Linked DNA regions of Homo sapiens. The protein of the gene in region 2 purifies or fractionates together with the protein of the main gene of each other region. This does not show direct contact. Each region holds a gene or a part of one and is shown on either strand. Other genes may lie near its edges.

Region 1 (3,653 bases), on a different chromosome or scaffold from region 2:
GACGAGTCTCTGACAGGCCTGCAGCAGATATCCACTTGCCCTTAAGGGCAGTCTGAGGCTCACCTTCAGAGCAGACCTAAAATCTTCTAATGTTCCAAATCAATATTTCGCCACATGTTTATTTTTTATAAAGAGCTGGCCTGGCTAGGTGCGGTGGCTCATACCTCTGATCCCAGTGCTTTGCGAGGCCAAGGTGGGAGGATCACTTGAGGCTAGGAGTTTGAGACCAACCAGAGCAACATAGTGGACCACGTCTATCCAAAAACTTTAAAAATTAGCCGGGTGTGGTGATGTGCACCTGTGATTCCAGGGACTTGGGAGTCTGAGGTGGGAGGATCGCTTGAGCTGGGGAGATAAGAGGCTGCAGTGAGCCATGATCGTGCCACTGCCCTTCAGCCTGGGCAACAGAGTGAGACCTTGTCCCTTAAAAACAAACAAATAAAAACAAAAGAGAGATGGCCTTATTCTGGTTTCCTCCTTTATCCTCTGATCCTACTCACATGGAGAATTTGAAAGTACAAAAGAGCCTGTTTATCCAAATGCACATGCACACGCACATAGGGACATTTAAAAAACTCGATCTGGCTTCTCCATCACCTCTGACCCTCCTCCCTGCTGCTCAGCTGATACAGGGCTAGGCCTCCATGCCCATGAGACTCTCTTAGGCCTGAAACACCCTTGTTTTCTCCTCTCCTGGGACAGCCCCAGAGGCCACACCGTGGACTTTGCCTAGTGCTCTCAGAAGGTGCTTCCAATGCGGTGATGCTCCTGTGCCTGGTGGAGCCCTGCAGGGTCTGGCCTCTCCGTCCCCAGCAAACTAAAGGTTACTCAGAGGGTTTTTTTTTTTTTTAATTTTATTTTTTTTATAAATTCTGCTTCATTTGTTACAGTTCCTTGCAATTTTCACACCCGTCAGAGGCAAAGCCAGAGTATGGAGATGTGATAATCAAACTGATGCAATACAGTCATTGTTAGATCTTTGGGTAGAATTAGGGAAGGAGCTAACACCCCCTAGGGTAGGATGAGGCCCTGGAGACTTCTAGGTTATCCAAGAAGGTACCTCAAAGTGATTCTATTCTTTGTTGCTCCTTTCATAGAACTTAGGTCACATGGAACTTATGGGGAATCTTCAAACCTCTAGGGGATGGTTATCCCGCAAATGCAACTTTGTTTATAGTGTATTTTAACTTACTATGAGTAGGAAAATCACACATTTGTAGTTTTTTTTTTTTTTTTTCTTTTTTGAGATAGAGTCTTGCTCTGTGGCCCAGGCTGGAGTGCAGTGGCGCCATCTCGGCTTGCTACAACCTCCGCCTCCTGGGTTTAAGCAATTCTTCTGCCTCAGCCTCCCGAGTAGCTGGCATCACCCGCATGCGCCACCATATCCGGCTAATTTTTGTTTTTTTTGTTTTTTTAGTAGAGACGAGGTTTCACCATGTTGGCCAGGCTGGTCTCGAACTCCAGACTTCAAGTGATCCGCACACCTCAGCCTCCCAAAGTGCCGGGATTACAGGCGTGAGCCACTGTGCCCAGCCAGGAAAATTACTCATTTGTAGTTTCTAATCACACTCTGCCTAGAAGCCCAACTAGGGGTCAGGGGCACCCACAGTGTGATCCTGAAGGGAGCTCCCCAGTCCTTGGAAACACGCCTGGGGCGAACGCTGAACATGCCTGAGGTTGCCTGGGCTTCATCATCTTTTCCCATAGCATTTAAAGAAAATGACTTGGCCAGAAGTATTATGCTGTGTGGTTTTATGAGTTTCATGATTTTTTTCTTAGAAATGAAAAAAAATTCACTCCATGAAAAGAAGAAAGGAAAGCCTTATTTGACAGCGTATCAACTGTCAACCACGATTTCCCCAGGGGAAATATGCAACTGGTACCAGGAGCCCCGGTTTGGGAGGAGCGTCTAGGACACGAGGTCATTAAGGAAGAAACTGTTGGGAGTCGGGCAAGAAGTGACAACAGAACAGTGAGAGCCTGACCACCAATCTGGAAGCTTCTGAGTACTTACTTGTAGTCTGGAGATGTCCCATCCAGCCACTTCCATTCATTTTCACGCTCTGAGTCTGTGAGGCCGATCCAGTGGCTCTCTCTCCCTACCATCTGTTTTTTTATCCATTGCTGAAAAACAAAGCAGGGGTGGTGCGTGACTATTTTTCAGAACAGATGTCTCAGGCCTTTTTCTTTTATTTAACATTTAGAAAAAAGGACAATTTAAAAGAGGATGGTTGTCAGAATGTGTAGCCTGCTTTTGCTTTCTGCTTTTTTCTTGCTACTTGCTTTGTTTTGTGCTGTTTGGGGGGCTTTGACTTTTTTCCTCTTACAAGTTTACAACGGATGTTAAAGTGAGGCTCTTCCTCTAAATCACTCAGACAACCCAGTGAATGTCCATTGGTCCCACTTCCTCCTACCACCCACCCATTTCTCCCATGTCCTAATCATAGGAATAGTCATGATATTCTTGGGCACTTCCTCTGGGCTGGGCCCCACGTGCAGTGTGTTGCACGCAGTGTGTCTCCAAGCTTTTATAACAACCCACTGAACAAACATGAGAAGTAGCTGAGCTGGGCTTGGGCCCTGGTCTGTGTATTCTAAAGCCCAGGTGCTTGGTCACTGTCTGCCGTGTGCTCATTCCAGTCAGTTACTACAGGAAACATCTGTTTACAGGATTGTGTCTGCTGGAGATAACTTAGGGAGAAGGGAGGAGGCCACTGGAATTGGTGTGGTATCAAAGAAAGCGCTGCATTGTTGCTAGATGGGCTGCAGTTTTGGTCTCAGTCTGCATAAACCTTGCCGGGCCTCAGTTTTCCTAGCCGTCAAATGAGGGTAATAATAATACCTATGTTCTAGGGTTGCTGTGAGGTTCAAGGGAGCAAATGCCTCTCACGGTGCCTGGCATATAGAGGGTCTAATGAGTGGACACTAGCATTAGCATGCGTGGGCTCTGCCTCCTCAGCCTTCTTCGCTCTTCCTGACTCCTCTGGAGCCATGCGTGGTCCCTTGCACCCCACTCCATCCCTACAGTGTTCATGCCTCTCTCTGTCCCCACAGGTGCCTGGTGGCAGCCCTCAAGCTTCTCTGCATTATAATTATTTCAACAGCCACCAGAAGGAGCCACACATCTCCAGGCTTGATAGGCAATATCTTCCAGGAAGAATCATGAAGATACAATTCCAATGCCACGAATGCTTCTAGCCACTGGATGAAACCCAAATCTCTGTAATGTTGCCTCCCATGTTTACGTGACTAGGAATTCGTGATATCTCTGAATCCCCAACAAGCCTGCAATTTCCAGATGTAAACTATCCTTAAATTATAGTTTTCCCCAACCAAGTATGTGGCAGGCATACCTGTTCCTCTCTAGTGTTTATGAAAACAAGATGTGAAGACTTGTCTTCACAGAAAAGCTTTGCATCCTCAAAAATTTCTTTCTCAACTGAAAAATAGTAGCATTTGTCTGTGAAGTTCTTCCAGTGAGGCGGGCAGCCTAGGAATGCAAAAGTGGAAAACATTGATTAAAAGATCACAGAAAGCACTCTGCCTTTCTTCAGCTGTGTTTCAGAGGCCAAAACTGTGGTCCCGCTGGGAGCAGCCTGAGCGTCCCTGCACGAGGCCCACAGCTGACGTTCACGGACGTGCTCGCAGCAAGC
Region 2 (3,653 bases):
TGTGATCTTGGCTCACTGCAACCTCCACCTCCCGGGTTCGAGTGATTCTCATGTCTCAGCCTCCCAAGTAGCTGGGACTACAGGCACATGCCACCATTTCCGCGAATTTTTGTATTTTTAGTGGAGACGGGGTTTTGCCATGTTGCCCAGGCTGGTCATGAACTCCTGGGCTGAAACAATCCGCCTGCCTTAGCCTCCCAAAGTGCTGGGATTACAGGCATGAGCCAGTGCACACAGCCAGCCTTCCTTTTTAAGGATAAAAGTTTGGACCAAACAAAGAAACACCATCATTACCTCTCTACTTTGGTGGGGATGCCAGAGAGTACATCTCCACAAAGAGCAAAGGGTAGATGAAGGGAAGTTATAGAAACTGCAGGTGTCTGCAAGCTGGGAGGCTGGGCAAATGGACGTAAGAAATACAACACTATAAGCCATTAACTCACTCATGCATTCATTTCTTCAGAAAATATTTATTGAACACCAACTACATTGTAGGCCTGTGCTAGTTAAATGGGAGATAGTGATGAATGAGACAAAGTCCAGGCCCTCATGGAACTTACATTTTTGCAGGGAACACAGGTAATCACAGAATGATGTAATAAGTGCTATAACAGGGTAGCAGAGGGCACATGGGGGCCCATAGGAGGATCCCTAATACAGAGTGGGGTTAGGGGAGATTTCCCAGAGGAAGTAAAAGTCTAAGCTGAGACCTTAAGTGTGAAAAGGAGTTAGCTGGAAGAAGGGTGTGGAGTGTGGAGCGGTAAGGAAAAGGAGAAGATTCTAGGCAGGGGAACTCTATAGGTGAAGGCTCTGTAAAGAAAGAAGGTATGATGTATCTGGAGGGCAAAAGTATTACTGTCTGGCGGGACCACAGCAGGTTGGGGAGATGAAGCTGGAGAAATAGGCAGGGGCCTGAGATGATGGACTTGTTCCTGAATCTGTCTGGAATATCAGCACCCTTGGCTATCAGAATGCCCTGTGTCTGCAGAGCTGCCTATGCTGTGTAGAGCAGAGCAAGAACTGCAAGATCTGCAAGGTGCTGAAAGGCCCGCGCTGGTTTGGCTCTGTCTGTACTGCCTAGATTGGGTTGGTATGGCACCTTTGGTGAGGCCTTTCCTAACCAGTACAATGTGCTTCAGCCTGCTTACTAGAAAGTGGGCAGGAGAGGCTCACCCTGTGACTTGGGCTCCGAGACCACAACTCCAGCCCAGCTGCTCTGCCTCCAACTTTGTGCAAATCATTTAAGCTCCCTAGCCTGCCATTTCAGCAACTGTAAAATGACAAGCTTCTCCAGGTGAGCTCTAGCCAAGGTGCCTTCCAGGTCTAATGCTATGATCTGAAGAGACGACATCCAACTGCAGGGTCTGGTTGGTCCCTGATTCCTGAAGCTTGACTTTGAATATGAATGACAGTTCAAGACCTCAGTCTTATTGACTAGCCCTGTCCTCCTTTTGTGCTTTGAATATTGACTTACCCGCTGCTTATCTGGGTCTACAAAGCGGATACCAAAATAGTCTTTCTCAAGTAGGTTCAGATGGTGGCAAAGAAGGTCAAACAGGTACTGGCCTTTGGCATCTCTCTGCAAAGAAAGAAAACTCCATTGAGAAATGAGTGGGTTTCTTCAGTGTAACTTTTTTTTTTTTTATAGCCATTAAAAGTTGTTTGTAACTGTTGCATGTGTCTATGAAAGGGGTGAATGTCCATAACTATGTCCTCCACATTGTGATACATCACTCACTGTCTGGAATCCAGAGGCTTTTAGCACCTGGAAGGAGCCCAAGAACCCTTCCCACCACAAAGATGTCAGAGAAGTCAGGGTAGAGTCAGGTAAGCCCAGTTCCCATCTCAAATGCACAGAGAGCTTTCTTAAACTGTGGGTGTAGGGAATGTCAGTGTGGAATACAGCAATAATTACACCAGGCCCAGCTGACTGAGCCTCTAAAGTAAATCTTGAATCCATTCACTTCTCTTCCTCTCTGTTACCAACACCATAGGTCAAGCCACCACCATCCCTCAACAGGACCACTGCCAGAGCCTTCTAACTGATCTTCTGCCTTTGCTCTTGCCCTTTCAGTCCATTCTCCGCACAGCAATGAGGGTGTCCACAATTTAGACATCATCTCTTTCTTGCTGAATAAGTGATCAGGCACATTGTAGGATATTTAAACAAACAAAAGGATATACTATGAACAGTAAGTCTCCCTTCCACCCTGGCCACCCTGTGCCCCAGTTCCTCTCCCTAGAAGCAACTGTTATCAGCTTCTTGTATATCCTTTTTTTTTTTTTTTTTTTGAGATGGAGTCTCGTTCTGTCTCCCAGGCTGGAGTGCAATAGCGCAGTCTTGGCTCACTGCAACCTCCACCACCTGGGTTCACACGATTCTCCTGTCTCAGCCTCCCAAGTAGCTGGGATTACAGGCATGTGCCACCACGTCCAGCTAATTTTTGTATTTTTAGTAGACACGGGGTTTCACCATGTTGGTCAGGCTGGTCTCTAACTTCTGACCTTAGGTGATCTGCCTGCCTCGGCCTCCCAAAGTGCTAGGATTAAAGGTGTGAGCCACCATGCCCAGCCCTCTTGTATATCCTTTATGTGATGTTTTATACACAGGCAAACCTACATACATATACATCTCCTCTTTTAAAAATACATTTTGTAACATATTTTTAAGCTCTTTTCTCCCACTTAGGGTATCCTGCAAATCCTTCTATGGCAATATATATAGATATGCCTCACAGTTTTTAACTGCTGCATGTCACTGCAATGAATCTAAAATTATTTACCCAGTTCCATATTGATGACATTTGTTTCTAATTTGCTATTACAAACAATGTGGCAGTGAACATACAATGATCTTTATGTTACTCACTTCTCTTAATTCTTGTTGCTCTCAGAATAAAATGAAAACTCTGATCATGGCGTCCCAGGCCCTATACAGCCTGGCTTCTCTCTGCACTCACCCAAAATCATTTTCCTCACTACACTTCAGCCATGGCCTTTCCGTTCTGAACTCCCCAAGGCTTTTCTGCCACTGTCTTTGCATTCCCTCTGCCGGGAATGTTCTTCCTGCAGCTCTCTGCAGCCACTCCTATTTTTTGAGGACTCAGCTCAAATGTCCCCTCTTCAGAGAGGCCTTTCCCTATAGTACAGCCCTTCCCAGTTACTTTCCATCTCATTTTGCCATTTATGTCCTTCATAGCACTTATACCAATCTGTAATTATCTTGTTGATTTGTTTAGTTATCTATTTACTATCTGCTTCCTTTCTAGACTGTAATTTTCATGAGGTCAGAATCCTTCCCCCAGAACTTAGCACAGGGCCTGATGCATGGCAGGCAGGTCCTCAATAATTATTTGTTGAATAAATTACTGAATGAATAGAAGGGAAAAGGTTTGCTAAAAGATTTCACAAAATGGTGAAAAGCTAGGCCGTTTATAACCCATAACCTTCTACTTCAGAGACCTGCCTGGATGCCAAGGGTGAAGTGGGAGGAGAATGACTTGCAGGAACCTGTCAAAACATCTGGAGCCTGCACAGCATCCATCGCTGGCCTGTCCCCAGTGGTCTCTGCAGCTCAGTTCAGATGATCATCTCTGGCGGGTCTATGTCTAATTTTGCATACAAATTGAGGTTGTATGAGGAATTTCTGTAGT
Region 3 (3,653 bases), on a different chromosome or scaffold from region 2:
CCATGAACTCTAAAGAGGGGAACTTGAAATAATCGTATCACCTTTTGATTGTTGATTATCTTCTTGGCTCTGTAGCCCAGGATGCTTGACAGTTAAAGGAAGTTTGAATTACCACTTTGCACTTTGATGGAAAAGTAATTGGTCTTTAGTGGTCAGTGCTCTGAGGGCCTCACTTGGGTTTAGGGACGTGACTATCAAAGAATGTCAGCAATGAACAAGGAGAAAGAATATGGTTTTTATGATTGGCTCTGCCACCTGTTCACTCCATGACTTCGAGGTTCAACTTCAGTAAAAAGAGGTTAACAATTAAATCAGTGTGTCAAAGTCTGGGCATGGTGGCTCAGGCCTGTAATCCCAGCACTTTGGGAGGCCGAGATTGGCGGGTTGCTTGAGTCCAGCAGTTCGAGACCAGTCTGGGCAACATGGTGAAACCCTGTCTCTACAGAAAAATACAAAAATTAGCTGGGCACAGTGCTGTGTGCCTATGGTCCAGCTACTCGGGAGGCTGAGGTGGGAGGATTGCTTGACCCCGGGAGGTGGATGGTGCAGTGAGTCCAGATCCATGCCGCTGCATTGCAGCCTGGGCAACAGAGTGAGACCCCGTCTCAAAAAAGTAAAATAAGTATGTCATGCATAATGACTTATAAAAGTCATGTGAATCAGTGTAAATTACAGTAAGCTCCATAAATTATGAAAAGCATGCAAAGCCCAACAAGCTTTTGTGAATCAGAGTCATCTCATTTATAAGTTCATCTAACGTAAACTTTAGTGGGAAGCCTATCTCCCTTAAAATACTGACAGAGTGATGTCTAACACGGCAAGCCCAGAACCTAGAGGAGAAGCTTAAGGGACTGCAACTGACCAGCCTGAGATGGGTGCTAGATGGTTCTGGAGCACGTCTGTGAGCCGGGTGCTTAACACTTCCCAGCTGCAATGTACCTACCTCCCTTGGCAGGTCTAACATGGAGACACTGTGAGGACCAAATAACTTCTACAAGAATGCTTTCAAAACTATAACCAAGAAGGGGTATTGCTACGACTAATATTCTCTATGTAAGCAAATGTGATAGAAACATTTATGTTAGATTAAAATGCATGATTTCTAAGTCTACAAATATCTTAATTTGGTAACTTAACACTATGCTTTCCTTAGGGCAGGTTCAAGCTAATAATCTTTACTGCATTTTATTTCACTATTCAACTAGATATTTTAAGCAGGCAACATCTCAAAACTTTAGACCACAGTGTACATTCTTCAACCTGGAGATCGGCCGATGGTTATACAGACACATGACAAAAGAAATCCCTAAGGACACTCTTTACTTCCACTAAACCAAAAGCACAAGAAAGATACATCCAGAAAAATGCTCATGTATTTCCTTTCATTTCATCTGCTTATGGCCTCTCAAAAAGGCCAGCAAGTTCTTGTCCCACATTCTTCCGGTTCTGCTCTCACTGAAGCAAAGTCACAATAAAGAAGAGTTGTTTAAAAAATACTCAGAAGTTAGTTAATCTGTAAAATCTCTGAAGAGAGTAAAAACATCTACTTTAGGCTGGGTGCCGTGGCTCACACCTGTAATCTCGGCATTTTGGGAGGCTGAAGCAGGCGAATGCCTGAGGTCAGGAGTTCAAGACAAGCCTGGCCAACAATGGTGAAACCCCATCTCTACTAAAAATACAAAAATTAGCTGGGCATGGTGGCAGGCACCTGTAATCCCAGCTACTCGGGAGGCTGAGGCAGGAGAATTGCTTGAACCCAGCAGGTGGATGTTGCAGTGAGCCGAGATCACGCCATTGCACTCCAGCCTGGGTGACAAGAGCAAAATTCCGTCTCAAAAACAAACAAACAAAAATCTACTTTAAAAAGTTAGTGTGATTCTCAAACTTCAGTGAGACCTTCTACATCTAACAAGCTGATCAAGTATCAACTGCTAATGCTGGAATGAAGTAAGCCATGTCTTAACGCACAAAGGGCTGTGCCTCAATGTTGTCAGGAAAGCTTTCTTTGATACTAAAAGCTAAAGTCCCAGAATTTACCACATAAACTTGCTCTGTTCCCAAAATATTCTCAGTATCAAAGTAACTGCCACTTTAAAATAGAAAATAAGAACAATAAATAGTAATGGGCAATTAATCCAACAGAGTATAGGCTGTAATACACGTGTTCTAAAAGCAAATAAGGAAGAAAGTCTTTGTCCTTTAAACTGAAAGTAGTTATGGCAGGAGACACATGTACAATCTTACACCTACAAGTGTTTTCTGCTTGTAGTCTTTATGGTTAGCGAGACGGCTGGCCCTGCGGTCATCTAAGTTCATCTAATGAATCTTAAACCTTTGTTTTGCTATAGCTAAATGACTTATACCAAAATGATTAACATGCTGAACACATGATAAAAAAAATATATATTCTTCCCTTAAGAGACTTCAGAGAAAAAGGAAAAACTTTATGCAACACAGAATTTCAGCTGTCCAAAAAGTAGCCTCAAAAAAGATGCTAAAGTCAAATGAACTCACAGCAAGGATTCTAAGCAATTGTCACAGAGGCCATTGAAATTCTGAAGTCAACTTTTTATCTCCTGGAAGTACTCATATCATTCACATTGAACTTAAGTCTTTCTTGAATAAGGAGAGAATATAAAAAAAATTGCTTTGTACTAAATAGTATTACACAAGACTTTTATTGTACTATCAGGGATGTTGAGGTAAATGTGGCCTTTATGCTTATATTATTGGATTAACTGCTTTGATCCTTTTGTAGATTAAAGATGATGTCTTGGCAGCAACAGCTCAAAAAATCAGCTCACCAGTTCTCGACACAAGCTCAGTGGGGTCTTGCTGTTGCACTTTCTCTAATGAAACCAAGAATTTACACCAAAACGAAAAATTATACTTTCTTTTTTGTCATTTGATTTAAGCAAAACTTTCCCCTGTAGTCCTTTAATTAGACACTAGAAACTATTTTGCCTACTTGTACTTTTCAGGAACTTAGGCTGTGCTCTTCCATTCTCACCCTACATTTATCTTCAAATATAAGTGAGATGGTCAGTTCAGAGAGAAAGGCTAGTGAATCAGAACATAAAACTAGTATTGCCAGAGTTATTTTCCTTTCCCAAGGAAAAGTAAGTCAAAAGGGTATTATTTAATTTCATTAAATTCATCTGACAAGTATTTATTGAACACCTACTATGCCCAAGAGACTTAAAGATGAAGAAGACATGAGACACACCCTTAAAGATTTAAGTAATAAAACCACTATCCATTCAGATTTTAAGTTCTCTGAAAATAAGGCTTGTGTCAAATCTTTTAGATCAGAAGCACGTGCTACCATAAAAAGTAGCTCTTCAAATGGTATATATTGATAATTATGATGAAAAAAGTAGTTTACTGACAGCCTTAAAAAAATTACACACACGCCATCCTAACAAATCATACTGACAGGTTTCCGTAAATAAAAAATACTTGCTGAGCCAGTAGGTTACATATTCATTTATCTAGAAAGACCTGTGCTGGCATCAGTCAGGTAAATAAAAACCCTCTGCCTTCAGTTTGACAAGTATTAAATACAACGAGAACATCCAGAGATACTTGAGATGGTCACACTTACCGGAGGCTTGTTTAACTTTGGTCTGTCATCCTGCAATGAAAAGATAAGG

Evidence for each region.
Region 1: the proteins of FRMD5 (region 2) and COLEC12 purify together in Homo sapiens (affinity purification with mass spectrometry; one large-scale study listed by BioGRID and IntAct). This does not show direct contact.
Region 3: the proteins of FRMD5 (region 2) and CYB5A purify together in Homo sapiens (co-immunoprecipitation; one large-scale study listed by IntAct). This does not show direct contact.

What each region holds. Positions count from the first base shown.
Region 1 is NC_000018.10:329,654-333,306, forward strand, and holds part of COLEC12 (collectin-12), read right to left. Parts: intron 3,491-3,653; coding exon 3,354-3,490; intron 2,125-3,353; coding exon 2,015-2,124; intron 1-2,014. UniProt on the Homo sapiens protein: Scavenger receptor that displays several functions associated with host defense. Promotes binding and phagocytosis of Gram-positive, Gram-negative bacteria and yeast.
Region 2 is NC_000015.10:43,922,731-43,926,383, forward strand, and holds part of FRMD5 (FERM domain-containing protein 5), read right to left. Parts: intron 1,580-3,653; coding exon 1,475-1,579; intron 1-1,474. UniProt on the Homo sapiens protein: May be involved in regulation of cell migration. May regulate cell-matrix interactions via its interaction with ITGB5 and modifying ITGB5 cytoplasmic tail interactions such as with FERMT2 and TLN1.
Region 3 is NC_000018.10:74,257,311-74,260,963, forward strand, and holds part of CYB5A (cytochrome b5), read right to left. Parts: intron 3,635-3,653; coding exon 3,605-3,634; intron 1-3,604.